Homo sapiens: one gene and its partners. The protein of the gene in region 1 interacts with the protein of each later gene in a biochemical or structural test. Each region holds a gene or a part of one and is shown in the gene's direction. Other genes may lie near its edges.

Region 1 (6,305 bases):
GAGATATTTGTTTGTATAAGTACAGCAATCCTCTCCTATGCTTCCTAGGTTCAGGACACACTTTTTCCCTTGTAATCCACTTCAAAGAGATTGTGCTATTTCGTTTTCTGGCCCTTGAGTCCATAACTTTAACTTTCAACTGCATTTGGTTTAGCAACATATTATGCCAAACAAGCAGAATGAATGTTTAATGGGATTTATAATGAAAGAATTTCTTTGGCAATTGCAAGATGGCTGAATGATTGAATAGGAAGTAAAGAATAAAGACTAAAGGTATTTGAAAGTCCCTGTCTCTTACCTCTCTCCCTGACTGAATATTCAGCTAGCCAATTATCTAAAAGACAACTGGTATTTCATTTGGAAATGTTGGCCAATATTCTGAATATTTTACTTTATTCAATATGTAGCTACTTGGAAGTCATCCAAACAATTAATAAACACTTAAAAATTTTACTGTGGATGTTTGTCTTTATCTAAAAAATCGAGAAAATAAAATCAATTGATAGTAACTGCTAAACTCATGGCACTGTTGTAAAACAATCACCACTTTTAAAAAGTGATTCTAAATACATTTAATGAGTGTGAACTTGTAGCACTTTTGTATACTCAATGAATTTAATTTCATGATCTGTGTTACATTTGTTTTTATCTTTCCTTCAAAACTTTAATTATTTTTCAGAACAAAATTTGTGATAATTTTAAATTAAAACCCATAGACAACAAGGATCAAAATTTGGAAAAATAAGTATGTATGGAGAGAGCCTAGCATGAAATTTCATTATTAATTAGGCACTAAGTTAACTCTAAGCTTACCAGGAACCAAGTAAAAATGGAAATATGAAGGTTTATAAAGCTTTCTTTATTTGTTTAAAAAAGAAAACAAAACATAATTTTGTTTAGGAGATGACTATTTCCTTGTACTAAATTTCTAAGGTTAATTTATTACATCAATTCTTGTATCTGAGACTTGTGCAAAGTAAGAGATGATCTATGTTTTGTAAAGAATGTAGAAAAATGCGTTGTATGATAGTTTTACATTTAACGGTAAATAAAAAGCAATATACTATAATATTTTATCATAACTCAGTGAAGTAATCTCTCTAAGTAGCTATGCTAATTGAGGCTGTCAGTGTGTTTTTCTTCGTACTTAATACAGCAAAGTCCAAGGTCTGCCACCTTGAAGGTTACAGCCTTTGTTAAACTAGATTTTTTTGTGCAGAATGTCAGCTGGGGTGTAATAACTTTTACTAACTTGAGAATGAGAGAAGATGGGAGGAGTGGAGCTCAAATTTAACACAAATGCCAAAGTATAATTCATCTATGTTTTCTTCCTCTAGTACTTTGGAAGTGTTGCTGAAATCATCAGGAATCATCAACATAGTCCTTTGGTTCTTATTGACAGTCAGAATAACACAAAAGATTCCACCAGACTGAAGTATGCAGTTAAAGTTTCATAAAGGGGGAAAAAAAAGATCAATACCATTGCTTCAGACACTTTCCCAAAGTTTCTCCTTTTGAGAAAAAGTCCCAAAACTTCATATTTTGGATTATGAATCATCCAGTAATAAAATGGAAGATGGAGTCAGCTATTGAAGTGGTCATCCATTTCTTTTTAAGAAGCTCATGTGGACTTGTTCTATTGCCTGACCTGATGAACTGTTAATATCTGGTGAGGTTGAGTTATCATGCTACTAATATTTTCCAAATAAATATTTTTATTTTTAAAAATAAGTGTAAAGTATATTATCAAAATAAGAAAATAATGCTCTTGCATAAAACAAAGTGGCTGGAAATTTAAACCTCCACAATGATCATTGGTACACTAATGTAGCTGGGCTCTCCACTGCCAATGCTTGACAATTAAGTCTTGGTTAAAATTTTAATTTGTAGAAAATAAGGTATTAAAGGTAATGTATGATATCTGTAAGTATAGGCAAGAAGGATGTAATGGTTCCTTTTTGTGAGCACTCTCAACCATGGGATATATATATATATGGATATGAACTTTCTATAAGTTCTTGTCTAGGATTATGCTGTTAGTTTTGCTTACTAAAGATAATTATACCCTCTTTGATCTACATGTCTATCAAATAGAACCTAAACTTGATATGAGGTTTGTATTAGTCCATTATCACGCTGCTAATAAAGACATACTCAAGACTGGGTGATTTACATAAAAAAAAAAAAAAAAAAAGAGGTTTAATGGACTCACAGTTCCACATGGTTGGGGAGGCCTCACAATCATGGCAGAAGGCAAAGAAGAAGCAAAGGCATGTTTTACATGGTGGCAGGCAAGAGAGCATGTGCAGGGGAACTGCCCTTTATAAAACCATCAGATCTCATGAGACTTACTCACTATCACAACAACATGGGAAAACCTGCCCGCGTGATTCAGTTACCTCCCACCAGGTCCCTCCCATGGCACGTGGGGATTATGGGAGCTACAATTCAAGATGAGATTTGGGTGAGGACACAGCCAAACCATATCAAGTTTCAAAGTGGAATGACAGCAAAGCTAGACTAAAAGCCAGTTCCTAGAGAAATATCCCACAAAACAAGAGCAGAAAAGCAGACATTGGTGAACACCAAGGAATAAAAGAGATACCATCGTGGAGAATCAGGTCCAAGGTCTTAGATCATCCCAGAAATGTATCATACTTTGTCATATATTTCTACTGTGTACTTCAGACAGCAGTGAAGTGATAAAGCAGCTAATTAAGTCTAATAATTAAATGGGGAACACACTTGGCCACTGCATAAGATAGCAATCTATGAAAGTATGTTGAAAGGCCAGAAGGTAATAATTTCAGGGTAACTCATGACTCACTTCTAAAGATAATTGTATATTTAAATGTCATAAACTTTCATAATTGCCACCTATGTTACAGATTGAACTGTGGTCCCCTCAAAAAGATATGTTGAAGTCCTAATCCATAAGGCCACATATCTCAGAATGTGACCTTATTTGGGAATGAGGTCTTTACAGATATAGTCAAGGTAAGATGAGGTCAGTAGGGTGGGCCTTAATACAATGGCTGGTGTCCTTATAAAATTAGGAAATTTGGATGCAGGCACAGAGAGAAGACTATATGAAGAGACACACAGGAACAATACTACTGGCGTGATTCCATCCTGTATGGCTGTTCTCTTGAGCAGTGGTCGTTTATCTCCGTCTGCTTTCTCTCCCACCTAAGTGTGTGCCGCCACCTGATGGAAGATTCGATGGACATGGACGTGAGCCCCCTGAGGCCCAGAACTATCTTTTCAGTTGTGAACTAAAGGCCGACAAAGATGATCACTTTAAGGTGGATAATGATGAAAATGAGCACCAGTTATCCTTAAGAACGGTCAGTTTAGGGGCTGGTGCAAAGGATGAACTGCACATTGTTGAAGCAGAGGCAATGAATTATGAAGGCAGTCCAATTAAATAACACTGGCACCTTTGAAAATGTCTGTACAGCCAACAGTTTCCCTTGGGGTCTTTGAAATAACACCACCAGTGCTTTTATGGTTGAAGTGTGGTTCAGGGCCAGTGCATATTAGTGGACAGCATTTAGTAGCTGTGGAGGAAGATGCAGAGTCAGAAGATGAAGAGGAGGAGGATGTGAAACTCTTAAGGATATCTGGAAAGTGATCTGTCCCTGGAGGTGGTAGCAAGATTCCAGAGAATAAAAGTAAAACTTGCTGCTGATGAAGATGATGATGATGATGATGATGATGATGATGATGATTTTGATGATGAGGAAACTGAAGAAAAAGCACCATTGAAGAAATCTACATACTCCAGCCAAAAATGCACAAAAGTCAAATCAGAATAGAAAACACTCAAACCCATCATCAACACCAAGATTAAAAGGACAAGAATCCTTCAAAAAACAGGAAAAAACTCGTAAAACACCAAAAGGGCCTAGTTCTGTAGAAGACATTAAATCAAAAATGCAAGCAAGTATAGAAAAAGGTGGTTCTCTTCCCAAAGTGGAAGCCAAGTTCATCAATTATGTGAAGAATTGCTTCCGGACAACTGACCAGGAGACTATTCAAGATCCTGGCAGTGGAGGAAGTCTCTTTAGAAAATAGTTTAAACAATTTGTTAACATTTTTCCATCTTATTTCATTTCTCTAACAGTCAATATCTGGCTGTCCTTTCTATAATGCAGAGTGAGAACTTTCCCTACTGTGTTTAATAAATGTTGTCCAGGTTCCATTGCCAAGAATGTGTTGTCCAAAATGCCTGTTTCATTATTAAAGATGGAACTTCACCCTTTGCTTGGTTTTAAATATGTATGGAATGTTATGATAGGACATAGTAGTAGCAGTGGTCAGAACATGGAAATGGTGGGGAGACAAAAATATACATGTGAACTAAAACTTGGCATTTTAATAAAGTAGCATGGTTTCTATTGAAAAAAAAGATTACGACATGAAGATGAGGGACTGGAGTGATGCATCTGTAGGCCTGGGAGCACCAAAGATTGCCTGCAAACCATCAGAAGCTAGGAAGAGGCAAGAACAGACTTCCCTCCGGGTTTTAGAGGGAGCATGGCCCTGGTGGCACCTTGATTTTGGACTTTGAGTGTCCAGTACTTGAAGACAATAAATTTCTGGCTTTTTAAGCCACCCAGTTTATTATGGCGGCCATAGAAACCTAATAAAATTTATATGCATTTTTTACATTCAGGTATATAGGGGTTTGGGAAATTTTGTATGGAAAGGTTTTTTTTCTCCTTTTAGGAAAACCATTGAATCATTTTGAATGTACTAGAAAGGATGACTCACAATTTAAACTGGGAAACTGGGGTAATTTTTTGGTAAAGCAAAGCATCTGTTTGTAGTATGTGGCATCAGCTCTCTAGCTTCAGTTTTCCTCAGTGTTACACGGAATTATTTTCTATTTAAGTAAATCCTCATTAATTCCCACTGCTACCACAGCAACCCTGGCTCTATAACAACCTCTTATGCCTCATTCTTCCTCTCCTCCTCCAAGTGTCCTACTCCAGCTAGGTAATAGCATAGCTGTTAAGATTATACTAATCCTCAGTTGGTTGACATACAGTACTGCGTGGTGGATTTCTTGGAGCAGAGGCTGGGAGAATTTCTGAGAGATAGGCCATTCTCTGCTAAGGGCTCTACTCCTCCCCAAAGCTGGGAGAACTACCCAATCCAACATGCCAGTCTTTTCCCTCATCTTGCAGAAGAGTCCACTGAGGGTGATCCCACCTGCTTCTCTAAAGCCCACCTCTGCAAGTGGTATTCTTGATGAGATTAGAAAAGTCTTTAAGAGGCTGGGCATGGTGGCTTACACCTATAATCACAGTAGTTTGGCAGGCCGAAGCAGGTGGATCACTTGAGGCCAGGAGTTCAAGACCAACCTGGTCAACACAGGGAAACCCCATCTCTACTAAAACTAGAAAAAATTAACTGGGCATGGTGGCACTCGCCTGTAATTTCAGCTACTACTCAGGAGGCTGAGGCATGAGAATCACTTGAACCTGGGAGGCGGAGGTTGTAGTGAGCCAAGATCATGCCACTGCACTCTGGCCTGGGCCACAGAGTGAGACTCTGTCTCAAAATAAACAAATAAGAAATTTCAAACACCTGTCTGTGATCTCAATGTCTCAATGGCTGACAAACAAATGGTTTTGCATAAAGAAATTTTCAGGCAAGCTAGGTGGTGGAATAGGAGACACTAGTCAAGAAGTACATGTGTAGCAGCTGAAGAAGGAAAAAAACCACACCCCAGTTCTTGTCTTCTGTTGAAAAGTAGATTGCAGCTATGGTAGTAGGAAAGATTTTCAAGTTTGTTCAAAAGGACAATAGACATGAAAAAGCTACGCCTGTGTCCAGCACAAGCCTGATTGTGTGTTATCATAAGTTAGCCAGGGCAATGGTTTGGAGACCTTGCACTCTGGGAGCTAAACTACTCTTACTGTAGTAGCTGGGATAGTCTTGCCTAAAAGAAAGTCCCAGAGAACAGAATTCAGCGATGTGAGGCAAAACCAGCACTACCTGAGACATGTTCTTAAAAAAGGACTGAATTCCTCTCCTTCAAAATGGTCTTAAGACACCATATAACTCAGCCTCTATTTCTAGGTAAGGGTAAACAATATTTTTCCAGTAATGATTCAAGAGCTAAAGTAAGCTAGTGGTGCCTGATAAACATTACCTCCTAGTCCCCTAACCAAAATCTTCTTTGCAGACATAAAAAGTGATCTGTGGATAACTCTTTAAATGAACCCATCTATAAATATTTTAGAACACTTAGTAATTATAATTGTGTATTAGGAAAATCTCAAATATTTTCTCTA
Region 2 (6,906 bases), on another chromosome or scaffold:
CAGGTTGCTGGAGCCCCTTGGTCAGATTCCTGCCTCCCGTTCCCTTTTTTCCAGGTGTCGCTGGTGCGGGCGAGTGCAGGTCGCCCAGCTCACCCCTGAAGCCCTGCTATCTCCCAGGTCATTTTTTAAAACAAACCTTTAAGGTTACCCTGATGATGTAAGGATAGAAAGTGAGTCTTAGCTGGAATCAAGCGCTTGAAAGGAAGCGGCGCAATGAACGGTTTTGAGACTGTCGACTACCGGTCAGTTTCTCTATAAAGTCTCCAGGCGCAGTCTGCAGCGTCCTGGACTTGTAACTATTGTGAGGGCTTTCCTGTGGGGGGCAGAGAGGCCTTGCATCTGGACCCCTGTGCAGCAGGAGGGGTCAGCAGGGGTCACGAGGGAGTGTTCGGATTCTCTGGAGGATTTGATCACCTAGCTTAAAACAACACATCTGGTCTTTATGTTTTTGTGCCTTGACCTTTTTAATATCAGTTAAGCTATGTGAACTAGAACCTAGTAGGAGACTAGAAAGACCACATCGAATATCTCCCTTTTAAAAAATTAAAAGAATCAATGGTTTTCTTCTCCCCAATAGATTTTTGGCAAAGGGAATTTTAAGGTCTGTCTCCTGGGGGGGCAGTGTGGTGTAACGACAAAGCCTTGCTCTGTCCCCTGGGTTCTCGGTTTCTCTGCCATTTCTTGGCTGCGTGCCCTTGGCCAGGTTGCTTAGGGCAGGTTGCTTAAATTCTGGGAAACGCAGTGTCCTCCAGAGTACAAGGAGGCATCTGCATCATGAAGGATCCTTTGGGTCCAGAATTCTCCTCCAATGTTCTGAGTGTAGACTCAGCACTCTTTTTAACTATTCCCCTGGCCCCTGTCTGCCTCTTTGAAATTCCTCTGCCTCTCCTGCTCACAGGGAAGTCATAGAGTATGGGTGCATCTGACCGGTCTGCCCCTGACTGAAGCAAGGAGCTGTGGCTTATGCTTACTGCCCTTCAATTCCCATATATTCCTCTGCATTGCCCTTTGAGGGCCCCCGCCCCCCAAGTATTACAGCTCCTGTGCCTAACAGGATGAACCTGCTAGGAATAGTGAATCATACCTTCCCCGTTTCGTTCCTGCAGGTGTGAGGCTGGAGTCATTCTCAGCAGCTGGACACAAGGCACTCTAAATTATTATCCTGCTGGAAATAAGAGACCCCAGATAATTCATTTATCCCTATTCTGTTTTTTCCCCCACTCATTCCCATTTTTTTTCTCATGACTCTGTAAATCATGTAATGCTATGCATTTATAGCATGCTTTCTAATGGGCCTTAAGTTTCGTATGACATGTGTGGTGTACATAGTTGTTGCTCTTCAGTTGGAAACTGTGTGCCAGGCCTTTTGCTTGGGGCTTTACCTATTTCTAGTAGTCTCAATGAGCCTAGGAAGTAGTACTATTATTACCCCTAACATTTTACAGCTGGAGAAACTGGCTAAGGATAAGCCCTAAATCATCAGTGGTGAAGCCTGATGAGATTGGCTGCATGTGCCCAGCTCTATAGCCATTCACATGATTCACCAGAATCTGTTGTAAGACTCATTCAAAAATATTTAATGAGTTTTTACTATGTGCCAGGGATTGTTGGAAGTTCTGGGAATACAGGATGGCCAATGTCACTACCTTCCCAATTTTGGTGAAAAATATTTAGAATTGCGTGTCTTATGAAAGCGGATTATTTGTGGAGGGAGGATTAATTAAATTTTAGCTTGGAGGAAGGGCTGTAGGCATTTGACCCTGTGGTATGTTGGCTTAGTTGTTAGCTATCTCATTCCAGTTAGCGTCCCTCAGAAATGAAGGTAAGCTGTTTCTAAAAGGATGATGCAAGCCAGTTAAAAATCCATCTCCCACTCCAAAACATAAAAATGGTCTTGTGCATAGGTGTGAAAGAGAACACCCCCAATAATGGCTGATGTCATTGGCTATTTACCCTGGATAGCATGGTGAGAAATAATGACAATCTACCATCCAAAGCCATTTTTTCTCCCAAAAGAAATTCTCATCAGAAATGTGCCAAGTATTCTGCGGGCTTCCCTTGGAGAACATTTATGTACAGATGTTGTGGTGGTGATGAATTTTGCTGCTGTTGTTGACAGCCCTTCGAAGTTACCCTTAGGGTTTTGACTCATTTCCTCAAGTCTCTTCCAGCTGATTAAAGAAGGACACGAGGAAATGAACCTCGGTGTCTCTAGCGGAATTCTCAGAGCTGGCCTGCAGTGTGGGGACCCCTTCAAGGTAGTGGTCAAGGCTGTGGCAGCTTTTTCTTCAGAATGAATGTAGTTTAAGAGTTGGCAGGCTAGGATGTGGGAAATGCTTTCTTTTGCTGCATTAATGTGCGGTAACTTTTAAAAGTTGAGATTGAATGACATTTGCAGGAATCCAAATATGCAAATTTCATGTGCAGTTTTGGTAACTTGAATAGATATTGCCACAGCTATAAGTCCGGATTGAAGAAGGCCTGGGGAAGAGTTAGAGGAGGTAAAAGTTTGCCTGGAGGGCAAATCCAGTGTAAATCTTTGTTGTACTTAGAGAGGAATTGAGTTGAGTCATAGAGAGGAATTGAGTTGAGTCGGCTTGGCCCAGCAGCTCTGATTTCTGACATTTTTTGGATGTGATCATACAGCTCATCTTTTGACCTAAGACTCTTAATAAGTAAAGAGCAGTTGTAATCTGATAGCCCGAGGAGACATGTTTTCTTTGGCCTACATGATGCTTTTTAGAAAACATTGAGGCGATATTAAACAATCTAGAGATTTTTTTTAAATCAAGATCTCTATTTCTGTCTCCTCTTTAAGAATTGAAGGTCATGGCCCCTGTAGATGAGGCCTGTGCTCTTCAGGTTGCATTAGGCTCTAGGGCTTTATCCTGCCATCCCTTAGGCATTCCCCACTGGGCCCTGGTGAGTGCAGGAATCCAAATATGCCCCTGGGACCAGGCAGATGACAAGTGGGAGGAGACAGGCCGGCCTACCTTGTGTTGGTCTGATGGCTTCATGACTGACAGCTTGATGGCCTTAGAGCAAATTGTTTAACCTTTTTGAGCTTTCATTGTCCATCCTAGTTTTGCCACTTATTAGCTCTGTGACTTTCGGCAGATTACTTAACCTCTCTGTGCCAGTAAATGTGTTGCTACATGTAAAACTTTTAGAGTGGTGCCTCATAGTACAGGCTCAATATGTGTTAGCCATAATTATCGTCTGTAAAACAGGAATTATTATTGTCCCTAAAATGGGAATAATGCCTACTCTTTTAAGATGATTGCCCTAAAGATTAGAAAGGCATTTTTTTTGTTTGTTTTAAAGACAGTATCTTGCCCTGTTGCCCAGGCTGGAGTGCAATGGCGCAATCTCGTCTCACTGCAACCTCCACCTCCTGGGTTCAAGCGATTCTCCTGCCTCAGCCTCCTGAGTAGCTGGGATTACAGGCACCCGCCACCATGCTCGGCTAATTTTTGTACTTTTAGTAGAGATGGGGTTTCACCATGTTGGCCTGGCTGGTCTCGAACCCCTGACCTCAGGTGATCTACCTGCCTCGGCCTCCCAAAGTGCTAGGATTACAGGCATGAGCCACCATGCCTGGCCGACAGTTTTAAAAATAAGCTTTAATTTTTTTGGTCTTGTTTTATTTAGCTTTTGATAAGAGTTAGGAAATCACTAGTCCTAGAGATTGAATAGATCTTGAACTTTTTTTTTCTCCAGGGGGGAAAAAAAAAAACTACACATCTTGTAAGATTCTCCAACATAACATTTGTGTCTGGTACTTTTCCCATTCATCTTATGTTTTAGCTTTCATGCTTACATTTTGGTTATGACACACTTTTGTTAGACATCTTCCCATGCATACCTTTCTGACAGGTTTTCAACATTTTTGCAAAATTTAAGGTTTAAGCCAAATTATTATTCAGGACATGTGGCATCAGTTAATTACGAGCTTGGGCTCTGAAATTGACACGCTGGATTTTTATTCCAGTTCTGCCTCTTCCCTGCTGTGTGCTCTGGGACAAGACACTTAACCTCTCCTTAAGCTTCATTTCCTCATCTGTAAAATGGAGATGATGACATAGGGCCCCTGCGAGGATTAAATGAGATTCTGCATGTAATATGCTTAGCATAGTGCCCCGCATAGAGGAAGTGTGTGGACTCCACTATCAGGCTGATTTTCTTATGTTCCCCTTTCAGCTTTGCCTCTTAGAAAAAAATTGAAAACGTGTAAACAGAATATGTAGAGTGGTTTTTTTTTTTCGTATTAAGATGAAGTTGTTAATTAGTGGTAATGCATGTTTATCTGCTTGGCTCTTTGTTTAGCCGTATTCTTGGGTTACTTTCCACCAAAAGAGATACAAATTTCTTGATAAAAGTTTAGGTTGGGGGAATGTCTGCAAATGGCCATTTTCTGTAGGTGAATAAGTACATGTAGTTCACCTAGGGTCCATGAAAGCAGTCAAGGAGCTTTTCCATGACTGCTTTCACTAGGAGTTCAAGGACCAAGCTGAACTTGTCCATTGCCCCAGGCTAGACACAGCGGTTAGTGTTCAGTAAGTATTAGTTTAACATCTTTTCTATTCTCCAGCACTTACACTAAGCTTTGAACATAAATGGTCAGTAAACATTTTGGATTCAGTTTAACAAAGGCTTATCAATCCCCATGCCTTGGTCCTACGTTACAGGCTGGGGGTGGAGGAGGGCCAGGGCAAGAGCACAGCCCCTGATTCGAAGTAGAATTTGGTTTTCTTAAGTGTAAAGTGCTCTGGGCAGGATTTTCAAGGAGATGAGCTTAAATCTTGATGGGCAGGTAATAGAGATCAGGAATCAGTAAGAGCATCCACATAGGAGATAATATTTGAGATTAATTTCTGAACCTTAAAGGAAGAGGGCAGTGTAGTTGTGGCTTCAGCTGAAAAAAACTACAGTACAAGGAACAAGGCATTAGGATCTTACTTCAGGATTATCAAACCTTTCTATTGGTATGATGGCTGGGGGTAGGGAATTGGCTGGGAAGGTAAGACTCCTCTTACTAGCCTCAAGGAGCATGGAGGGAATGTGTATTTAGTGCTGAGTTTGGTCTAGGTTATGAAGAATGCTTTGAAGTCAAGGCTAAGGTGGACTTGACCCAGGAGTGGCCCCCCAGGCTTTGCATACTAGTCCAGGGCTGCCTGTTCCACCATTCTGTCCAATTAGACATACTCCCCAGCCTGTTCCAATAGTCTGACGAAGCGAGAGGCCAAGCCCTGCCTTAAAACTTGGACACTCCCTTGCTGTGGGCAACCAAGACTAAGGGAGAGTCTGTTTTTATTATTTATTTATTTATTTATTTATTTATTTATTTATTTATTTATGAGACAGGGTCTTGCTCTGTTGCCAGGCTGGAGTGCAGTGGCACGATCATAGTTCACCGCAGCCTCCACCTCCTGAACTCAAGTGATCCTCTCATCTCAGCCTCCTGAGTAGCTGGGACCCCAGGCGTGTGCCACCACACCGGCTAATTTTTTTATTTCTATTTTTGTAGAGAATAGTCTCGAACTTATGAGCTCAAGCGATCCCCCAGCCTCAGCCTCCCAAAATGCTGGGGTTACAGATGTAAGCCACCACACCTGGCCTGTTTTTTTTTTTTTTAATAGTAAAACATACATAAAATGAAATTTACTACCTTAATCATCTTTAAATGTATATTTCAATAGTGTTAAGTACATTCATACTGTTGAACACTTTCATCTTGCAAAACTGAAATTCTATACCCATTGAAGAGCAGCTCCCCTCTCCTTCCCCCAGCTTCTGGCAACCACCATTCTACTTTCTGTCTCTGAATTTGACTATTCCAGGTAACTCGCAAATGCAGAACCATACTGAATTTGTCTGTTTTTTGACTGGTTTATTTCACATACCGTAACATCCTCAAGGTTCACCCCTATTGTAGTATAAGTCAGAATTTTCTTCCTTTTTAAGACTGAAAAATATTCCATTGTATGTATAGACCACATTCTGTTTACCTGTTCCTCCTTTGATGGACATTTGGGTTGCAAACAATGCTGTAATGAACATTTGCATGTAAGTATCTAAGGGAGATTTTTCGTGGAGACTATTTAGGAGGGTTAAACTCATGGCTGCGAGCTACATGTTGGGGAGCTGGGCAGAAGATGGGCTCTTTAGATTATCTCTGAGTGAAGGGGTAGTGGACCTGGGTATTAGGGTACATGCTTTGGAAAGAAAGCGCCCTTAAGAGACACGAGGAGGATAAAGGTGCAGGTCTTCTCTCATTCGGCGTATTTATGGGCACCTTCTGTGTGTCAGGCACTGATGAGATTGAGGGGAAGGAGAACTGGAATTATCATGGGTGTAGGTAACTGGGAGTATTGTTGATACTATGGAATTAGTGGAAATAAAGCCAAGAGGAGGGGTGGCCTATTTGAGGGAGAGAATATGATGTTGGACTCTGCTGGGTTTATTCATTGATTATTTGTGAGCTGCATTTTCTTGAAACTCAATTTCACAGACATGGAGGGAAGACGTCAATGAAATCTTAGGGTCAGGTCCCTGTAAGAAATAAAACTAAACCCCAAAGTCACAAAACATGGCTCTATAATATTACGGTAGCATTGGGGATTATAAAGAATGGTATGTTAACTGTGAACCAGTCTTATGGTGAAAAGTAAGTTTTCATGAAAAGGAGTGTATACTAGGAAGAGAATCCTGTATTCTTCTCTGCATTAGGCCATGTTTAAGGTATGTTTTTTGTTTTTCTCAGAATAAAATGGCCATACTGGGTATAGAGGAGGACATAGAATTGACGAAAGCTTTGGGAAATAGGTCCTTTGAAAGCAACTTAAAGAAATTGGATTTATTAAGCCTGGAGAAGATAAGGTGAGGGAAGGTTTAGTGAATGACAGT
Region 3 (6,906 bases), on another chromosome or scaffold:
ACTTATTACTCATAATTCCTCTAGCTTCTCTTAACTCTGCATTTGAATTAAATGAAGTACAAATTTTAGAATATGCATAGGTGCATTAGAAATTCCACAAAGGGACAGTGCAAGTGTTTTTAAGATGGAGAAAACAAAAGCTTCATAGGAAGAATGGAATGTGAACTACACCTAGTTGGTGAGAGAAGAAAATCATTAGTAATTTGTGCAAAAATAGCTTGAGGGAAAGGAGAGATGTGAGCAAGCATGGTGGGAGGAAGATAATGAGGAGGAGAGCCTCTTGAAGAATAGGATGGAGAAGGTGGAGCCAGGTTATTAGTAACCTCAATGTCAAGTGGATTAGTGTGAGGCCTTATAGTTCCCACACCCTGTAGGGGCCCTTACTAGGTTTTTCTCTTGAATACATGAGTGGTATAACAACTGTGTTTTGAAAATATTGATCTTATAGAAGTCTGGTCCCATGAATAGATTGAAAGAGGCAGACAGTAGAGGAAATTCCACTAAGGAGAGTTCAGTCATGTAGATCTCAGCAGGGATGGGGACCTGAACTTGGGATGGTGGCAATGGGAATAGAACAAGGGAATAAGTACGCGGCTAAGAAGAAGGGCTCGGTGCCTGCGTGACTGGAAATCAAAGAGAAGGAATCAAGCTGATTGAGTTTTAAGCCTGGAGAATCTGGATAAAGTCATTTCTTTCAATGCAAGCCAGGAAAAGCAGTCAACTTAAGAAGTAAATGGATTTCTATTTGAGGCCCACAAGCAAGGTAATACTGGAGTAACCAAGTAGAAATATTAGTTTGAGAATATGGGACTTGGAATTTGGTAAGATGATGGAAGTTGTCAGCATTCAGAGAAGAAAATGAAGTTCTGAAAAAGGAGGATGATCTCTAATAGCGTGTATGGTAAAAGGTTAGAGGACTGAACTCTGTTGGCCATTCCCAGGGAGAGAGACGGGAGGAAGGAGCCAGTAAGTGAAACAAGGAAATAATCAGCAAGGGAGAAGGGTTTTAAGATCTTTTTAAGATGGAGAAAACAAAAGCACAATGTGGCACAATGTGGGTTTTCTGATAGTAAAGGGGGAGACTTTACAGAGCGTAGTGCCACATGTTACTAAGAAGTCAGGGAAGGTAAGCCCTTTAAAAAAAAATCATAGTTATTTAAAGAAATATTGTTTAAATTCCTACAGGACTTTGGACAACATGCAGAAGTAGTTCAGGTATCTTGTTTAGCATTAAGGAAGTGAGAGTGTGCTTGTGTTGTTAGCTTCATCTTGTCGTATACCCAAATTTTGTGATACCTCAAAATGCAGAGACCGAAAATGTTCATAAATGTACTTTAATGAGATTTCTCAAAGTGAGTTATTGTTTGGAGTTGGTTAACTCTGTATCACGTATTTCGATCCTCTTTATAATGTTGGCTAAATGTTTGTTAAAGAAAAGTAGTGGAAAGGAAGATATATGAAAACAATTAGATGTTACCTTCTTGTAAGTCACATTGACCTTATTCAATACCAAGTAATCATTAGACTTTTAATTTTACGGAACAACAAATTTGCCGTGGGGAGGTTTAAGACCAATGGATCAACTATATAAACTGTACTAGCACTAGGTTTTTGCATGCTCTTCAGAGGAAATGCTTTTCCTTGTGTCTATGCATTAATCATTTACCTTTCCCAGAGTTTTGTAATGTTTAATTCCAGTGCTTCAGGGATTGTGTTTTTATGTGCAGATTTAATAGGTGGAGTTGGGGGTGTGGGCAGATATAGGACAGAATTAGAGAGAATGCTTTTCTTGGTTTTGTGGTGGCGGTTTTGTTGTCTGATGTATAATCATAAAGGCTAAAGAACATTTGTGCTTTAAATCCTATGGATCACACAAAAAATCTAATGAGAAAAGCCCTATCTTTTGATTGCTTAGCGATAAACATGTTTATAAAAAATGTATTCTTAGTCTCCACCTTGTTTATTCTGTCATTAACAATTTTTATTTAGAACGCATGCTGATTCTGCAAAATCCACCTCTTCTGAAACAGACTGCAATGATAACGTCCCTTCTCATAAAAATCCTGCTTCCTCCCAGAGCAAACATGGAATGAATGGCTTTTTTCAGCAGCAAATGATATACGACTCTCCACCTTCACGTGCCCCATCTGCTTCAGTTGACTCCAGCCTTTATAACCTGCCCAGGAGTTATTCCCATGATGTTTTACCAAAGGTGTCTCCATCAAGTACTGAAGCAGATGGAGAACTCTATGTTTTTAATACCCCATCTGGGACATCGAGTGTAGAGACTCAAATGAGGCATGTATCTATTAGTTATGACATTCCTCCAACACCTGGTAATACTTATCAGATTCCACGAACATTTCCAGAAGGAACCTTGGGACAGACATCAAAGCTAGACACTATTCCAGATATTCCTCCACCTCGGCCACCGAAACCACATCCAGCTCATGACCGATCTCCTGTGGAAACGTGTAGTATCCCACGCACCGCCTCAGACACTGACAGTAGTTACTGTATCCCTACAGCAGGGATGTCGCCTTCACGTAGTAATACCATTTCCACTGTGGATTTAAACAAATTGCGAAAAGGTCAGCTCTAGTTGACTTCTTCTCTATTAGAGGTTAATGATAGAAAATCGATTTTTCTGAATATTTGTTCTTTTAAGCGTAGTTAAATATACTATGCTACAAAATACAGTCCATTTTTTTCCAGCTCTACAGCTACCTGGAAGGGTATATTGCATTCATGCTCTGCTGGAAGGGAAAAAGAGTTGGAGTTTCTCACCCCTGAAGAAGTATGGCCTTAGTAATGCCTTCCTGCCTCAGGAAGTGTGCCCTTCTCTCTCCCACTTTCTATAATCCTGGGTGGATAGGCCCTCTGTTGGGACAGAAGGGCAGGAAATGGACCAGCCACAAAGCCTCTCCGAGTCATACCCTTTCCTGTATTTGTGTGCCATTATGGCCGCTTCTAAGTCACATCTGTTGGGCTCTATTTCCTTCCTTCCTATATAAGCAGTTTTTATGTTGTGTCTAACAGGTGATATTCTGTTCCAGTCAAGCCATTATGCTGTTTGATTTTTACTTGTGTTTAAAGAGCTGAATCTTCTTTCCCCTTATCACTACCCACTTCACTCATTGCTAGTGAGTATACTTTCCTATACTGTCTCCTAGAGTCTGTATCCAAAAGTTACAGACCTTGAGAGGAGAAGAAAAAAATGAGTCTGGGTGATTCTCTGAGATTCTCAAAGTCCTACAAATAGAAAGCTAAAGTTTTTAATGCACATATCCTAAACAGTATGTGCTAAAATTTCTGTATTTTGTGGTAGAGTTTTCCTCAGCTATCTCCAAGATTTTAATGTATCTGTGATTATTACTTAAATCAGTACTTATTTCACCATTCAATAACAGTATCTAACTCCTTTCTTGAAGTGACTGTATAACCTGGTTATCAGTTAGTGAGATGTAAGTTATGCCCAAGGTGGTGCAAACGATGAGAAAATAGAGGTGTTTCTCTTCATCTTTAGATAACCTATCTTATCCCAGACTTAGACATTCACTCACACTCAAAATTAGATATTGGTATTGGTTAGCATATGAGTGAGTGTCTGCATTTTCTAGTGGTTTAATATGCCAATTCAAGACACAGTTCTATGAGCATCCTTTTTAAAATTCTGTGTGTGTGCATGTGTGTATGCATATGTATAATGAGAGAAAGATAATAGGTCATCCCAATGACCCTGAGAGCTGGCAAAGATGGGAATAAATGTTGATAGTTTGTTCTTTATTTTAGATGCTAGTTCTCAAGACTGCTATGATATTCCACGAGCATTTCCAAGTGATAGATCTAGTTCACTTGAAGGCTTCCATAACCACTTTGTAAGTATAATTGACCTTGGCATCATCAAGTGTATTTCATTGTCTAAATCTTCATAATTAGTGCCATGAGACTAAGTGATATCATGAAATAAAAGTACGCTGAGATCCATATGAATGAGTGTGACTTACAATTGTGTTTTCATGTGTGACAAGAGTTTTTGTTTATTAAAAGAAATATATATGTGTTTTAGAAAGTCAAAAATGTGTTGACAGTGGGAAGTGTTTCAAGTGAAGAACTGGATGAAAATTACGTCCCAATGAATCCCAATTCACCACCACGACAACATTCCAGCAGTTTTACAGAACCAATTCAGGAAGCAAATTATGTGCCAATGACTCCAGGAACATTTGATTTTTCCTCATTTGGAATGCAAGTTCCTCCTCCTGCTCATATGGGCTTCAGGTCCAGCCCAAAAACCCCTCCCAGAAGGCCAGTTCCTGTTGCAGACTGTGAACCACCCCCCGTGGATAGGAACCTCAAGCCAGACAGAAAAGGTAAGGAGAGCATGGCAAAGTAAAAGGCTTGGGGAGTGCCAAGTTAGATCTATCTTTAACTGCCATTAAATCCAAAATAGAATTTGGACTAGAAATTCTGAAATATTTCATAGTTCCATAGCCATCAAGTTATTTAAGCAAAGCAGTACTGCCATTTATAAATTAACAATTATGATATCACATGTTGATGTGAGGTGATATTTATAAGTCTCCTATCTCTAGAGCAGAGGTTACAAGCTGAAATACTCACGGGGTGAGCGGACAACTGGGGAGAATTAGAAGAAACTGGACTGCCGTAGCCCCATCTAATGGGAGTAACTAACCTACACTGCTACAATCCTTTGTTGACTTGTGAAATGATGCACCCATGCAGGCAAATCTTCTGGTATATCAGGAAAAGCCAGAGATTTCAGATTTTATATGTATTATCTCTCAATTTTTAAAGTTCTATCAACTAATTTAATTATTAAGAAAACATTGCAGGCCAACCCAAACACTTCTGCAAGCTAGATAATGGCCTTCAGCTGCTATTTAGTAACCTCTTCTCCAGAGTATATAATATCAAATCAGACTTAAGATTATTAATGTATTTGACATAATTATTTAAGAACAGTGAGACTGTATAATCTTTCCATTCTGTTCATATAACAACTTCTTAAAAATTACTTTGCCTTTGCTGGGGTAATACATGCTTCTAGTCTGTCATTTTTTTTTCCATGCTGGCCTTCATAAGTAACATTAAGTTCTAAGGTAACATAGTTTGTTAAGAAGTCTGTAAAAGAAACTGTTCAGCCAAATTGGGTAATGCCTACCCAGGTTTTTTAAATTGGGGTTTAAGTTGTTAAAACACAGACAATTTGATTTGTTGCACCATGCTGTTAGTGTGGCTTAATCTTGACAACCAAGTAAATTAGCATAAATGTAAATGTGATGAATGATACAATATCTGGCTTACATTAGGGTGTTTCAGCACATTTGAAAAGTCTCATGTGCTATATGTAGCTTTTTAAGACCACATAATGTTGGCATCAATTTCTCCTTAACCTGGGCTTAGATCATTAATATTAGTTCTAATTAAGTCCTAGTTGTGAGGAAAAGAGACTGAGGCTCAGACTATCTTAAGAAAAAAGATTTGGTTTTGTTTGTAAGTAAGGATAACCTCCTCGTTTCAACAGGAGGTTAACCTCCTTCAACAAGGAGGTTATCAGGAACTGAAGCAATTCTAGGGGACTGTTGCTGTGTCCTGCTCTCTCTGTGCATTTCTGTTTTATGGGAAATCTTTGCATCTGGTTTGTTCTCTTTCACATTCTTCCCTTCTTTTCTGTTTTCTTTTCTGATTCTTTTTTGTTTTCTTACTCTGTATCCTCTACTTAAATGGATTCTGCTTTCCAAGAGCTTTGGCCTCCAATGCTCCCCTTCTATGGCCTCAGTTCTGCCTCCTAGCTGCTTTTTATGTGCCCTTGCAGCTTCTGCATCAGCTTCTCATTGCCTTACTTATTATTTACTCACTTTAGATTGCTTAGAGATGATGTGATTGGTCTATGTGTGTCACACCCACGACGACCCAGTCTGCCCTGGCAGCAGGGCTGTGATTGCGGTGTGGATCTCAGAAAGGATGTGAGCATCAGAGGCTTTCTATCGGATAATGCTTCCTTTTGTTTCCTTTTTCTTTGTCTCTAAATCTATTTTAGACAACTACTAGTCATTTTCTTTGCATATAATATGCAAAAATATGTTTGGACATGTATAGCTTTATAATTGGTTCATACAGATCACTGAAGGATTGAGATATAAGTGTCATGAACTCTTTGAAATATTGAAATATCTTTTTTAATGTTAAACTGGTGCTTTCCTTATTTTCCAGTAACGAGTGCATGTTAGTGGCAGATCTCTACTTTTTAACTCCAAACCTAACAGTTTTATATTTTGAGGTCTCGCATAAATGTGGAGGGAGTAAGATTTGGGTGAGGTTACAAAGCTTTTAAGTCCTACCTCCCTTGCTCCTCTGCTGCTCTTTTCTCCCCTTGAGCTCTGTAGAGCACAGTTTGAAAACTCCAGTATATTTCAACAGTTGTGATTCCATGTGGTAAGCATAATATGAAATCAGGAAACACCACTGTTTATAAGTTAGAAAAGACCTAAGATCAATTAATGATTAGCTTTTAGTATCCTCTAGGTCTGATATCACTCATGTATCCCACATTATTATGATATATATTTTATGTATATATCAGAATATATACTATGTATCATGTATACTACATATTTTATAATTATACATCCCTATGTATTTAGTGAAAGTACTATTATTCTAGTACACTAGAGACTAATCACACTAGTTCTTTAACGTAAAAGAACTTAATAGAACAGAATAAAGTAGGTTCTTATTTCTGGAGATTGTGTTCATTCTTTTAAAATTTAACTGAACTGTTCAGAGACAATTGTGAGTTCGTTGGCCACATTATTTATTTGGCATATTTGCTTAGATACAAAATGAACTTAAAAAGAGCACCCAGATTGAAATACCCATATA
Region 4 (6,906 bases), on another chromosome or scaffold:
ACCCCGTCTCTATGAAAAATACAAAAATTAGCTGAGCATGGTGACAGGCGCCTGTAATCCTAGCTACTCAGGAGGCCAAGGCAGGCAAATCACCTGAGGTCAGAGGTTCAAGACCAGCCTGACCAATATGGTGAAACCCCATCTCTGCTAAAAATACAAAAATTAGCCAGGCGTGGTGGCGGGTGCCTGTAATCCCAGCTACTCGAGAGGCTGAGGCAGAGAATCACTTGAACCTGGGAGGCGGAGGTTGCAGTGAGCCGAGATTGTGCCACTGCACTCCAGCCTGGGCAACAGAGTGAGACTCTGTCTCAATAAATAATAATAATAATAATAATAATAATAATAATAATAATAATAGTAGTAGTAGTAGTAGTAGTAGTAGTAGTAATAGTAGGCCGGGCGCAGTGGCTCACGCCTATAATCCCAGCACTTTTGGAGGCCGAGGCAGGCGGATCACGAGGTCAGATCAAGACCGTCCTGGCTAACACAGTGAAACCCGTCTCTACTAAAAATATAAAAAATTAGCTGGGCGTGGTTGCAGACGCCTGTAGTCCCAGCTACTCGGGAGGCTGAGGCAGGAGAATGGCCTGAACCTAGGAGGCGGACCTTGCAGTGAGCCGAGATTGTGCCACTGCACTCCAGCCTGGGCGACAGAGCGAGACTCCATCTCAAAAAAAAAAAAAAAATAGTAACAGTAATAAAATAAAAATTATTTGTGAAGGATGTGAGCTTTCACCTAAAGCCACAGCAAATGAAACAATCTTTGTAGGTGCAGCCTCATCCTCAGATGCTTCTGGTCTCTGCCACCTCGAGCTCTTCAACATTCATTTGTGTTCTTTGCTGTTTTGTTTTCTTTTTCTTTCTTTTTTTTTTTTAACCCGACACTTCAGTAGCTGTTTTGTATACTTAAACATTTGAATAAAACTTAATTTTTAAGCATCTAATTACATCACTCCAGTTTCAGGGCTTGTGTGTGCAAGCTCCCAGTGCAGGTGGAGCAGTTGGGTTGAAAGGCCTGGTCTCTGGCTCAGGGTTGCAGCTGCATTGTTCATCCTGTGTTTTGCCTCCGGCAGAACCAAGCTTTTTCTGAAATTCTAGAGTGAAGAGGTTTAGAGGTATGTGCAGCAATACCTGGGCTATCTGATAACGTGATATTCTGGATACTAGAATTTTCCAGATAACCAAAATCGTAACCATTCATGTACTCAAATGTTACATTTTTGGCCAGCATGATGGCTCACGCCTATAATCCCAGCACTTTGAGAGGCCAAGGTAGGTGGATTGCTTGAGGCCAGGAATATGAGACCAGCCTAGCCAACATGGTGAAATCCCGTGTCTGCTAAAAGTACAAAAATCAGCTGGGTATAGTGGCGCATGCCTGTAATCCCAGCTACTTGGGAGGCCGAGGCACTTGAATCACTTGAACCCGGGAAGTGGAGGTTGCAGTGAGCCGAGATCATGCCACTCCACTGCAGCCTGGGTGACAGAGCAACAGAGCAAGACTCTCTCAAAAAAAAAAATTACATTTTTAAAAGCATTAATTCCATATTTTCCTTCTTTCTGGGGGAGAAAAACATACTAAACACCAAGTAATAATTTTTGTTCTGTAGACAGCCATAGTTCTAAGTTGATGTCAAATCTAGGAGTTGCCCTGGAGTTGTGTTTGTTGGGGGAGGGGACACTTTTTAGAGGGATTTGCCTCTGTCTTGGTAAAGGTGACAAGAAGAGAGTGTAGCTCTATGAACTCCTGGCAGGTAAATAGAGTTATCTTTTTCTGCAAAGTTATTGGTCACAAATCAAAAGTGTCCCTTTCTAATGATTACTTTGTTCTGTTTTGATGCACAAATAGGTTACAAGCAGCTCTTTGTCAGTCTGACTCTCTGTCTTCCAAGAACAAGTGTATACAGTAAAAGTAGACACACCTCACCATTTCAGGAGTTAAGACATTTTCAAAAACTCTTCATAGCTGGTATGGGTGCACGCACCTGTAGTCCCAGCTACTCCAGCCTGAGCAACGTAGACTCTGTCTCTGAAATAAAATAATAAATATTGTTTATAAGCCTGTGGGGTTTTTATTATTACTATAGGATGATGCTTTATAAGGTCATTATTAGACCACATTTTCCTTCTAGACCTTATTTTTGGTAGATAACAGAATCCTGGCCTTAAATAACTTTTAAAGTAGCTCCTTTTCTCAAAGGCTATTCAGAGTTTTCTGTGCTGCCAGTACAGGGGCAGGTGGTGGTGGCCCGGCAGGGTTCAAGCGCACTTTCCCTCCTCAAACTTGTCCTTGGTGTGTGCTTTATAATTGTCTATCAATACAGCACCATTGCTGGCTGCAGCACAATGCAGTGTTTTTAAAATGAAGACTTAAAAATTATGAGTGTACCTTGCATATATTGTTTTATCTCATTCCAGTCTTTGATGTGATTTTTTTACGAGAAACAAAATGATGACTAGAAGAAAGTTTTCATCAATACTCTATCAATATTTATGTGACTCTTGGAAACTTTGAATACACTGGGATTTACCACTAGCTAATTTTTTTTGAGAGTTTGCTACACATATTTATTAGCTCTTTCAGGATTTATCACCTTATCCTAAGCATTGAAACCCAGTGTCTGGCACCTGCAGTCAGAGTGTGGTAAGCATAGCAGATAAGCACCAGCATTGCAAAGCTCTGCAGGGCATACCCTCTGTTAAGAAAGCGTAGTCATTAATGCAGCCTGGCTAGTTGTCGATCATCTGTCATTCTTATCTACCCTTTCTATTGCATCTCACTTTGAATGGCAGTACACAGACAGCACTCACTTTAGAGCAATCCAGCTTCTGATTGGCTACGAGTACAGCATTGTTCAACATCTTGAATAAATCATTTTGTAAAGAATGTTACCAGTTTCCTCTCAGAACTTTGTTATGCAGTGTAGATTACCACTGTACTAGCCAACATTTTCCTGGGCCCACCATTTTGGGGTTGTATTCACATTTTTGTTTTATCTTTTACCAACTTTATGCCTTCTGCCCTTTGCCTTTTGTTGTAAGTCTAGAATTCATAGGGTGGCTTTCACGCTGTACCTGATTCTGTTCTGCTCCGTATATACTAGTCCCCCCTTACCTGCGGCCAGTTGCAATCCAACATATAAATAACATATTTTGGCCAATCGCAGTGGCTCACACCTGTAATCTCAACACTTAGGTAAGCTGAGGCAGGAGGATACTTGAGCGCAGGAGTTCAAGACCAGCCTGGGCAACATGGCAAGTGCCTATAGTCCCAGGTACTCAGGAGGCTGAAATGGGAGGATAGCTTGAACCCAGGAAGTTGAGATGCCATGAGCCGTGATGGTGTCACTGTACTCCAGACTGGGCAGCAGAGCAAGACCCTGACTCAAAAAAAAAAAAAAAAGATATTTTGAGAGATAACACATTCACATAAATTTTTATTACAGTATATTGTTATAACTTTTCTTTTACACTTTTTAAATATAAAGACAGGGTCTCACTATGTTGCCCAGGCTGGTCCTAAACTCCTGGGCTAAAGCAGTCTTCCCACCTTAGCCTTCCAAACTGCCAGGATTACAGGTTTGAGCCAGCACACCTGGCCTGTTAAAACTTTTCTATTTTACTACTAGTCATCATTAATCTCTTACTGTGCCTAATTTACAAATTAAACTTATAGGTAGGACTGGCATGGTGGCTCACACCTGTAATCTCAGCACTTTGGGAGGCTGAGGCAGGAGAATCCCTTGAGTCCAGGAGTTCAAGACTAGCCTGGGCAAAATAAATAAATCGGCTGGGCACGGTGGCTCGTGCCTGTAATCCCAGCACTTTGGGAGGCCGAGTCGGGTGGATCACAAGGTCAGGAGATCGAGACCATCCTGGCTAACATGGTGAAACCCCGTCTCTACTAAAAAATACAAAAAATTAGCCGGGCGTGGTGGCAGGCGCCTGTAGTCCCAGCCACTCGGGAGGCTGAGGCAAGAGAATGGCGTGAACCCGGGAGGCAGAGCTTGCAGTGAGCCGAGATCGCGCCACTGCACTCCAGCCTGGGCGACAGAGCGAGACTCTGTCTCAAAAAAAAATAAATAAATAAATCTAAAAAAAAATAAAACGTATAGGTATGTGTATAGTGTAGGAAAAAGCATAGCATATCTAGAGTCCTGTACTATCCACGGTTTCAGGCACCCACTGGAGGTCTTGAAACGTATCCATCATGATAAGGAGGACTACTGTATTACTCTACACATTACAGCGTCATGGCCTAGCCTATGCATGGCCTGGTACATGCAATTCAAGAGGCAGCATTGGAGAGAACGGTCATTGGAAATATGAAAGTCTGGGCATGATGTTAGCTCTGTGGGGTCACTACCTCGTAACCTGGGTTGACCATTGATCTTGTTTTTTTACATCTGTAGAATGCAGTGGTTCAGTTCCAGGATTTCCAAGGCATCTGCCTGAATTCTGCTGGTTGATATGCTTTCAGCACTATCTAACTTTAATACAATGTGGCATTTGGGTTATTGAACTGAGTAGGATTTGCCATGCTTTTTCCTGAAAATAGTTTTCCCATACGAGGGCATATGGTTGTCCTCACAAGCAGCAGTGTTCTGGAGCTGTTTGGTGGGTGACCCGTACTTGCGGTAACCCAGAGAAGCCATGAGGGGATCCAGGACTGTATCACTGTAGATTCTGGAGGTCGGTTGGAAGATCTCTAGAGGAGTCTAATAAAAGGTTCTGTTGCTGCTTAGTTCTGCTGTGACACCTCTCTCTCCCAGAAAGTAGACTTTGTCTTCGTCAGGCTCCCTTATTCTCCTATGTGTTTGCCATTTTCCAGAACCTCTTCTCCAGGTTTCTCTCTTAGAAAAACCAAACCAAACAAAAAAACTGGCCGGGCACAGTGGCTCACACCTATAATCCCAGCAATTTGAGAGGCCAAGGTGGGCAGATCACCTGAGGCCAGGAGTTCAAGACCAGCCTGGCCAACATGGTGAAACCCCATCTCTACTAAAAATACAAAAATTAGCTGGGCAACGTGGCATGCGCCTGTAATCCCAGCTACTCGGGAGGCTGTGGCAGGAGAATCGCCTGAACCCAGGAGGTGGAGGTTGCAGTGAGCCAAGATCGCGCCACTGCACTTCAGCCTGGGCGACAGAGCAAGACTCCGTCTTAAAAAAAAAAAACAACTAATACTTGCCATTCTTCTTTCTCCTTCCTTACTGAGGGTTTCATTCCAGATGTTTGGGAGCCTGAATTTTCATTTTCAGAGATAATTTCTGTTTCATTTTAACAGAGTTTAACATAATGCTGGTTGTTTGAAGTTAAAAGGAGTCTTATATCCGTATAACTGATAATACTTCGAGTGAAACCGTTCACAGACCTAAAAGATAGCATAATTGTCTTGTAACTATCTTTTTAAAGGGAAAAGGAAATGATTGGGTTTTTTTGTTGTCTTATTTCTTTTCAGGTTTTGAACGAAGAATGTGATCAGAACTGGTACAAGGCAGAGCTTAATGGAAAAGACGGCTTCATTCCCAAGAACTACATAGAAATGAAACCACATCCGTAAGTTAAGCTCCATTAGTCTTGGAAGGGTTGGACCCACCTCCTTGTTTCAAACACTCTTTTTAAAATTGAGATCACTGGGATGGATGTCATACTTTTTATTCACGTTTCTAGGGAATTAACAAAGGATATTGATTGTGCATGTTAATAGTATATAATAATATATCATAGTCAATAATATTATATGTTTTAGATTGATAATAACTGTCAGTGATCTTCAAAAATAAAACGATAGTTGGTGCAGGTCCGTAATTCTTTTTCTGTTAAATATGTCTTAGAGCCAGATGTGTTTTATAATTCTGCATTTTTTTTGAGTTTTAGAAAAGGTACTTAGATGATTTTGTGTTTATATGTGCTAATGCTGTGGGACGGTATCTTAATATCTTTGTATCCCCAGAGTACGGTGCTTGGCATCTAATAGTTCTCAATAAATGTTTATCCCTCCATCTTAGTGTTCCTACTTACAAGAGAACAAAATATGCTGTCCTCCAGGCTGCTGGGAGCAGTGAATATTTTTAATTTTTTTTCAGAAGCTACCCTTGTCACGATTTTATTAATAACGCAACATAGTGGACCCCTGAGAGCCCCTGCAGACCACTGTCCTCCCGTTCTCACCCACCCCTCATTCACAGGCCCTGCTCCTAGCACAGAAGCAGTTGCTGGCTTGCCTTACAAGTGTGTCAGGGGAGCTGAGGCTTTCCACGCTCAGACTAGAATGCCCTTGGACATTGTCCACTTGCTTTCACAGCAGCTGGTGGCGGAGACTTTCAGGTGGCTTGTCGCATCTTGAGTGGGAGGGGCCTGTTGGATCACAGCACATCCTCCCCAGGTCCCATATAAGCCACATAATTTGTGTACTTCTGTTTCCTTCAGTCGTCCTCAAAAGAAACTGTAGGTCAAGGGTTGGCTAAACTTTTTCTGTGAAGAGCCAGATAGCAAGTAATTTCGACTTTGTGGGCTGCATACAATCCTGTCAAATATTCCTTGTAAAAATTTTCTTTTAACAATCGAGTAGAAATTTAAAAAACAGTCTTAGGTTGTGGGCAGATTTGGGCAGAAGGCCATTATTGTTTGCTGGCTCCTTCATTAGATCCAAACACAACATCGACTTCAGTTCCCTTTTGTTTTCATATTTTCAGATTGAAAGGGAATTCAACAGAACATCATACTACACTTCTTATATGACATGCCTGTGGCTCGAAATTCTTATTTTTCTTCAGTGTTTCGGGTGACACAGGCATTTAAATCTGACTGTTGAGGAAAGATAGGAAAGGCTACCTTCCTTGGAAAGTTGTAGTTACTGCCAGGCTGACTGGGACAGTCACTCCCTTGCCTTGACCTTTTGTC
Region 5 (5,051 bases), on another chromosome or scaffold:
TGGTCAGAGAAATGGGAGGCATGCATTCTAGTCCTGATTTTGCCATTAATTTGCCACATGACTTTGAAGAAGTTACTTATCTTCTCTGTGCCTCGGTTTATGCATCTATACAGAGGAAATAACATTTGTCCTTCCAGGATGGCTGTAAGGGTAAAGGGGGATGATGTATGTGAAAGTGCTTTGGAAAGCACAGAGCACTGTATAAAAGGTACTCAAGGTGGTAATAGTACTACCAACTCTCCCTAGCTGTCCCCTTCCCCACTTTGTGCTCCTCCATCAAAGGGAAAACCCAACCCCTTTGATTCCTGATCTCATGAGCACAAATAACTTCCTCAGTTCTCAGGGTCTGTACCTCAATATGCCTATAATCCATTCCAGGACTAACGGTGCTTCCTCTTCCTGCCCTTTCAGCTGTGCTGCTTTTGGCATTCACCTATGAGGAGCGGGTTGGAGTGGGACATGGGAATGGCCTTTCCTGAGTAACTCCTTCCCATTTGCTCCTCAGAGCATAGAGCCTCTGGACCCCAGTGAGAAGGCTAACAAAGTCTTGGCCAGAATCTTCAAAGAGACAGAGCTAAGGAAGCTTAAAGTGCTTGGCTCGGGTGTCTTTGGAACTGTGCACAAAGTGAGTGACCCATAGGAATTCTGGAGAGGTGGGGAAGGCATCTAGGGCAAAGGGGTGAAAGATTTTTGCATAGGATTGACCTAGGGAGAATGACCTTATGCCAACTCCTGCCCCAAACTTCCCAGGGAGTGTGGATCCCTGAGGGTGAATCAATCAAGATTCCAGTCTGCATTAAAGTCATTGAGGACAAGAGTGGACGGCAGAGTTTTCAAGCTGTGACAGATGTAAGTGAAGGAAATTCTGTATGCCGCTAGGAGAGAGGACAATATTAGATACAATCATGTAGAAGCAGGGTCCTGTGCTTCTCAGCAGCTACTATGTTAGCCAGAATGTTGGGGGTGGGGGGGCCTGGGCTGGCTGTGCACATGCTGAGTGTATGTGAACCTGTTGGTTTCCTAGATAATACCTTTTGTGTCTCTTAGCATATGCTGGCCATTGGCAGCCTGGACCATGCCCACATTGTAAGGCTGCTGGGACTATGCCCAGGGTCATCTCTGCAGCTTGTCACTCAATATTTGCCTCTGGGTTCTCTGCTGGATCATGTGAGACAACACCGGGGGGCACTGGGGCCACAGCTGCTGCTCAACTGGGGAGTACAAATTGCCAAGGTGAGAGAAGCCTGGAGGAATTCTGTGATAAGAACTGCTTGTCTGGGGGCCAGCCAGGAAAAAGTGAGAAGGTTGAAGTTCTGAGAGGTGAGGTCCCCAACCCCCGGGCTGCAGACTGGTACCAGTCCATGGCCTGTTAGGAACCAGGCCACAGAGCATGTGAGCGGCAGGCAAGCGAGTGAAGCTTCATCTGTATTTACAGTCAGTCCCCATCACTTGCATTACCGCCCGAGTTCCGCCTCCTGTCAGATCAGGGGCAGCATTAGATTCTCTTAGGAGCTTGACTTCTATTGTGAACTGTGCATGTGAAGGATCTAGGTTGTGCACTCCTTATGAGAATCTAACTAATGCCTGATGATCTGAGGTGGAAAAATTTCATCCCAAAACCAACCCTCCCCTTCCCCTGGAAAAACTGTCTTCCACAAAACCAGTCCCTGGTGCCAAAAAAGGTTGGGGACCACTGCTGAGAGGTACCTTCAAGATTTGGGGGAATTCCAGATCTCAGTGACTGATTCCCCCAACCTTAAGAATACTTTCTTCCCCTATACCTACAGGGAATGTACTACCTTGAGGAACATGGTATGGTGCATAGAAACCTGGCTGCCCGAAACGTGCTACTCAAGTCACCCAGTCAGGTTCAGGTGGCAGATTTTGGTGTGGCTGACCTGCTGCCTCCTGATGATAAGCAGCTGCTATACAGTGAGGCCAAGGTGAGGAGACACAAAGGGTAAGGAGGCGGGGGTGGAGTGAAGCATGGGGATAGGGAGCAGCCAGTGGTCTCTTCCAGAGGCAAGCAGATGCTTCATGGTAAGTTCAAGGAGAGAAGGCTGCAGATGCCAGATATTTTAGTTCAGAGGGCAACAAATAAAATAATGATCAAGAACTTGGGACTGGCCGGGCGCGGTGGCTCACGCCTGTAATCCCAACACTTCGGGAGGCCAAGGCGGGTGGATCACAAGGTCAGGAGATCAAGACCATCCTGGCTAGCACGGTGAAACCCCGTCTCTACTAAATATACAAAAAAAAAAAAAATTAGCCAGGCGTGGCGGCATGCATCTGTACTCCCAGCTACTCGGGAGGCTGAGGCAGGAGAATGGCGTGAACCCAGGAGGCGGAGCTTGCAGTGGGCCGAGATCGCACCACTGCACTCCAGTCTGGGCGACAGAGCGAGACTCCGTCTCAAAAAAAAAAAAAAAAGAATTTGGGACTTGGAAATCCTAAGAAAATTTGTGGAAATAAACTTGTGATACCTCTATCTTTAATCCGCAGACTCCAATTAAGTGGATGGCCCTTGAGAGTATCCACTTTGGGAAATACACACACCAGAGTGATGTCTGGAGCTATGGTCAGTGCATCTGGATGCCCTCTCTACCATCACTGGCCCCAGTTTCAAATTTACCTTTTGAGACCCCCTCTTAGAATCTCTAAGCACTTCAGATTTTTGTGTTAGATCAGGTTCTGCCTTCCCTTCACTTCATGCCCATGTCTACTATTTTGCCAGTGACTAGTCCATGTCTTCCTGCAACAGGTGTGACAGTTTGGGAGTTGATGACCTTCGGGGCAGAGCCCTATGCAGGGCTACGATTGGCTGAAGTACCAGACCTGCTAGAGAAGGGGGAGCGGTTGGCACAGCCCCAGATCTGCACAATTGATGTCTACATGGTGATGGTCAAGTGTGAGTTACCTGCTGAGCCCAACCATTTTCTCTTTTTTTCTTTTTTTTTCTTTTTTTTTTTTTTTTGAGACAGAGTCTCACAATTGTCACCCAGGCTGGAGTGCAATGGTGCAATCAATCTTGGCTCACTACAACCTCCGCCTCTCGGGTTCAAGAGATTCTCCTGCTTCAGCCTCCGGAGTAGCTGGGATTACAGGCGCCCGCCACACCTGGATAACTGTTACACTTTTAGTAGAGATGGGGTTTCACCATGTTGGCCAGGCTGGTCTCAAACTCCTGACCTCAGGTGATCCGCCTGCCTCAGCTTCCCAAAGTGCTGGGATTACAGGTGTGAGCCATCATGCTCGGCCTGACTGCAGCCATTTTCTGACTTCCCTCTGTACTCCTCTTATGGCTCTATTCCTTTTTTTTTTATGGAGTCTCGCTCTGTTGCCCATACTGGAGTGCAGTAGCGTGACCTTGGCTCACCGTGACCTCCACGTTCCAGGTTTAAGTTCTTCTGTCTCAGCCTCCCAGATAGCTGGGACTTTAGGCGTGCACCACCACGCCCAGCTAATTTTTTTTTGTCTTTTTAGTAGAGATGGGGTTTCACTATGTTGGCCAGGCTGGTCTCAAAGTCCCGACCTCAGGTGATCCACCCGCCTTGGCCTCCCAAAGTGCTGGGATTATAGGTGTGAGCCACCGCGCCCGGCCATGGAATGTATTCTCTTTTATGTCTCTACCTCCTACATCTTATCTCCAGGTTGGATGATTGATGAGAACATTCGCCCAACCTTTAAAGAACTAGCCAATGAGTTCACCAGGATGGCCCGAGACCCACCACGGTATCTGGTCATAAAGGTGAGTAGGGAGTAGGAGGTGCTAAGGAAATTTAGAAAAAGGAGGAGTTGGCTGGAACCAGGATTCCCCCTAACAATCACCTATCGATATAGAGAGAGAGTGGGCCTGGAATAGCCCCTGGGCCAGAGCCCCATGGTCTGACAAACAAGAAGCTAGAGGAAGTAGAGCTGGAGCCAGAACTAGACCTAGACCTAGACTTGGAAGCAGAGGAGGACAACCTGGCAACCACCACACTGGGCTCCGCCCTCAGCCTACCAGTTGGAACACTTAATCGGCCACGTGGGGTAAGACAACTTCTAATTACCCAACACTTTGCACCCTGAGCCCTCACAAACCCTACAGATACCCAGATTAACTACTCAAAGGCCCCCATGGTGAATGTAGATTTCTCCCTTCATCTTAACCTTTTCCTTATTTTTTCATCCTAGAGCCAGAGCCTTTTAAGTCCATCATCTGGATACATGCCCATGAACCAGGGTAATCTTGGGGAGTCTTGCCAGGTAAGTTCTGTTGCTGAGAGGCTGGGTTTTAGGATCAGATTGATACGAGTAGTATGGAAGACATTAGAAACCTCTGAGGTTTAATCAGTGTCCTGCAAAAAAGAAGGCAGTGAGGGCCGGGCGAGTTGGCTCACACCTGTAATCCCAGCACTTTGGGAGGCCAGAGAGAGTGGATCACCTGAGGTTAGGAGTTTGAGACCAGCCTGGCCAACATGGTGAAACCCCGTCTCTACCCAAAATACAAAAATTAGCTGGGTGTGGTGGTGCACACCTGTAATCACAGCTACTCAGGAGGCTGAGACAGGAGAATCGCTTGAACCCGGGAGGCAGAGGTTGCAGTGAGCTGAGATTGTACCACTGCACTCCAGCCTGGGTGACAGAGCAAGACCCTGTCTCTTAAAAAAAAAAAAAAAAGGCCAGGTGCGGTGGCTCACGCCTGTAATCCTAGCACTTTGGGAGGCCGAGGTGGGCGGATCATGAGGTCAGGAGTTCGAGACCAGCCTGACCAACATGGCAAAACCCTGTCTGTACTAAAAATACAAAAACTAGCTGCACATGATGGCAGGTGCCTGTAATCCCAGCTACTCGGGAGGCTGAGGCAGGAGAATCACTTGAACAGGGAAGCAGAGGCTGCAGTGAGCCAAGATAATGCCACTGCACTCCAGCCTGGGCGACAAGAACAAGACTCCACCTCAAAAAAAAAAAAAAAAAAAAAAAAAGGCAGTGAACAACCCAATATCCTTCTAAACAAATCTCTCTTCTTTCCTCATCATGTAAATTTCCTTGCATTATTTTCTGTTTAT

What was found.
Region 2: the proteins of BLNK (region 1) and KIT form a complex in vitro, tested with the Homo sapiens proteins (one large-scale study listed by BioGRID and IntAct).
Region 3: the proteins of BLNK (region 1) and GAB1 form a complex in vitro, tested with the Homo sapiens proteins (one large-scale study listed by BioGRID and IntAct).
Region 4: the proteins of BLNK (region 1) and GRB2 form a complex in vitro, tested with the Homo sapiens proteins (3 studies listed by BioGRID and IntAct, with this or other methods).
Region 5: the proteins of BLNK (region 1) and ERBB3 form a complex in vitro, tested with the Homo sapiens proteins (one large-scale study listed by BioGRID).

What each region holds. Positions count from the first base shown.
Region 1 is NC_000010.11:96,187,125-96,193,429, reverse strand, and holds the end of BLNK (B-cell linker protein), read left to right. Parts: intron 1-1,337; coding exon 1,338-1,457; 3' UTR 1,458-4,259; downstream 4,260-6,305. UniProt on the Homo sapiens protein: Functions as a central linker protein, downstream of the B-cell receptor (BCR), bridging the SYK kinase to a multitude of signaling pathways and regulating biological outcomes of B-cell function and development.
Region 2 is NC_000004.12:54,659,270-54,666,175, forward strand, and holds part of KIT (mast/stem cell growth factor receptor Kit isoform 1 precursor), read left to right. Parts: intron 1-6,906. UniProt on the Homo sapiens protein: Tyrosine-protein kinase that acts as a cell-surface receptor for the cytokine KITLG/SCF and plays an essential role in the regulation of cell survival and proliferation, hematopoiesis, stem cell maintenance, gametogenesis, mast cell development, migration and function, and in melanogenesis.
Region 3 is NC_000004.12:143,436,010-143,442,915, forward strand, and holds part of GAB1 (GRB2-associated-binding protein 1), read left to right. Parts: intron 1-1,989; coding exon 1,990-2,591; intron 2,592-3,792; coding exon 3,793-3,878; intron 3,879-4,069; coding exon 4,070-4,373; intron 4,374-6,906. UniProt on the Homo sapiens protein: Adapter protein that plays a role in intracellular signaling cascades triggered by activated receptor-type kinases. Plays a role in FGFR1 signaling. Probably involved in signaling by the epidermal growth factor receptor (EGFR) and the insulin receptor (INSR).
Region 4 is NC_000017.11:75,331,353-75,338,258, reverse strand, and holds part of GRB2 (growth factor receptor-bound protein 2), read left to right. Parts: intron 1-5,461; coding exon 5,462-5,559; intron 5,560-6,906. UniProt on the Homo sapiens protein: Non-enzymatic adapter protein that plays a pivotal role in precisely regulated signaling cascades from cell surface receptors to cellular responses, including signaling transduction and gene expression.
Region 5 is NC_000012.12:56,095,998-56,101,048, forward strand, and holds part of ERBB3 (receptor tyrosine-protein kinase erbB-3 isoform 1 precursor), read left to right. Parts: intron 1-505; coding exon 506-625; intron 626-750; coding exon 751-849; intron 850-1,047; coding exon 1,048-1,233; intron 1,234-1,787; coding exon 1,788-1,943; intron 1,944-2,502; coding exon 2,503-2,578; intron 2,579-2,761; coding exon 2,762-2,908; intron 2,909-3,650; coding exon 3,651-3,748; intron 3,749-3,840; coding exon 3,841-4,032; intron 4,033-4,176; coding exon 4,177-4,248; intron 4,249-5,051. UniProt on the Homo sapiens protein: Tyrosine-protein kinase that plays an essential role as cell surface receptor for neuregulins.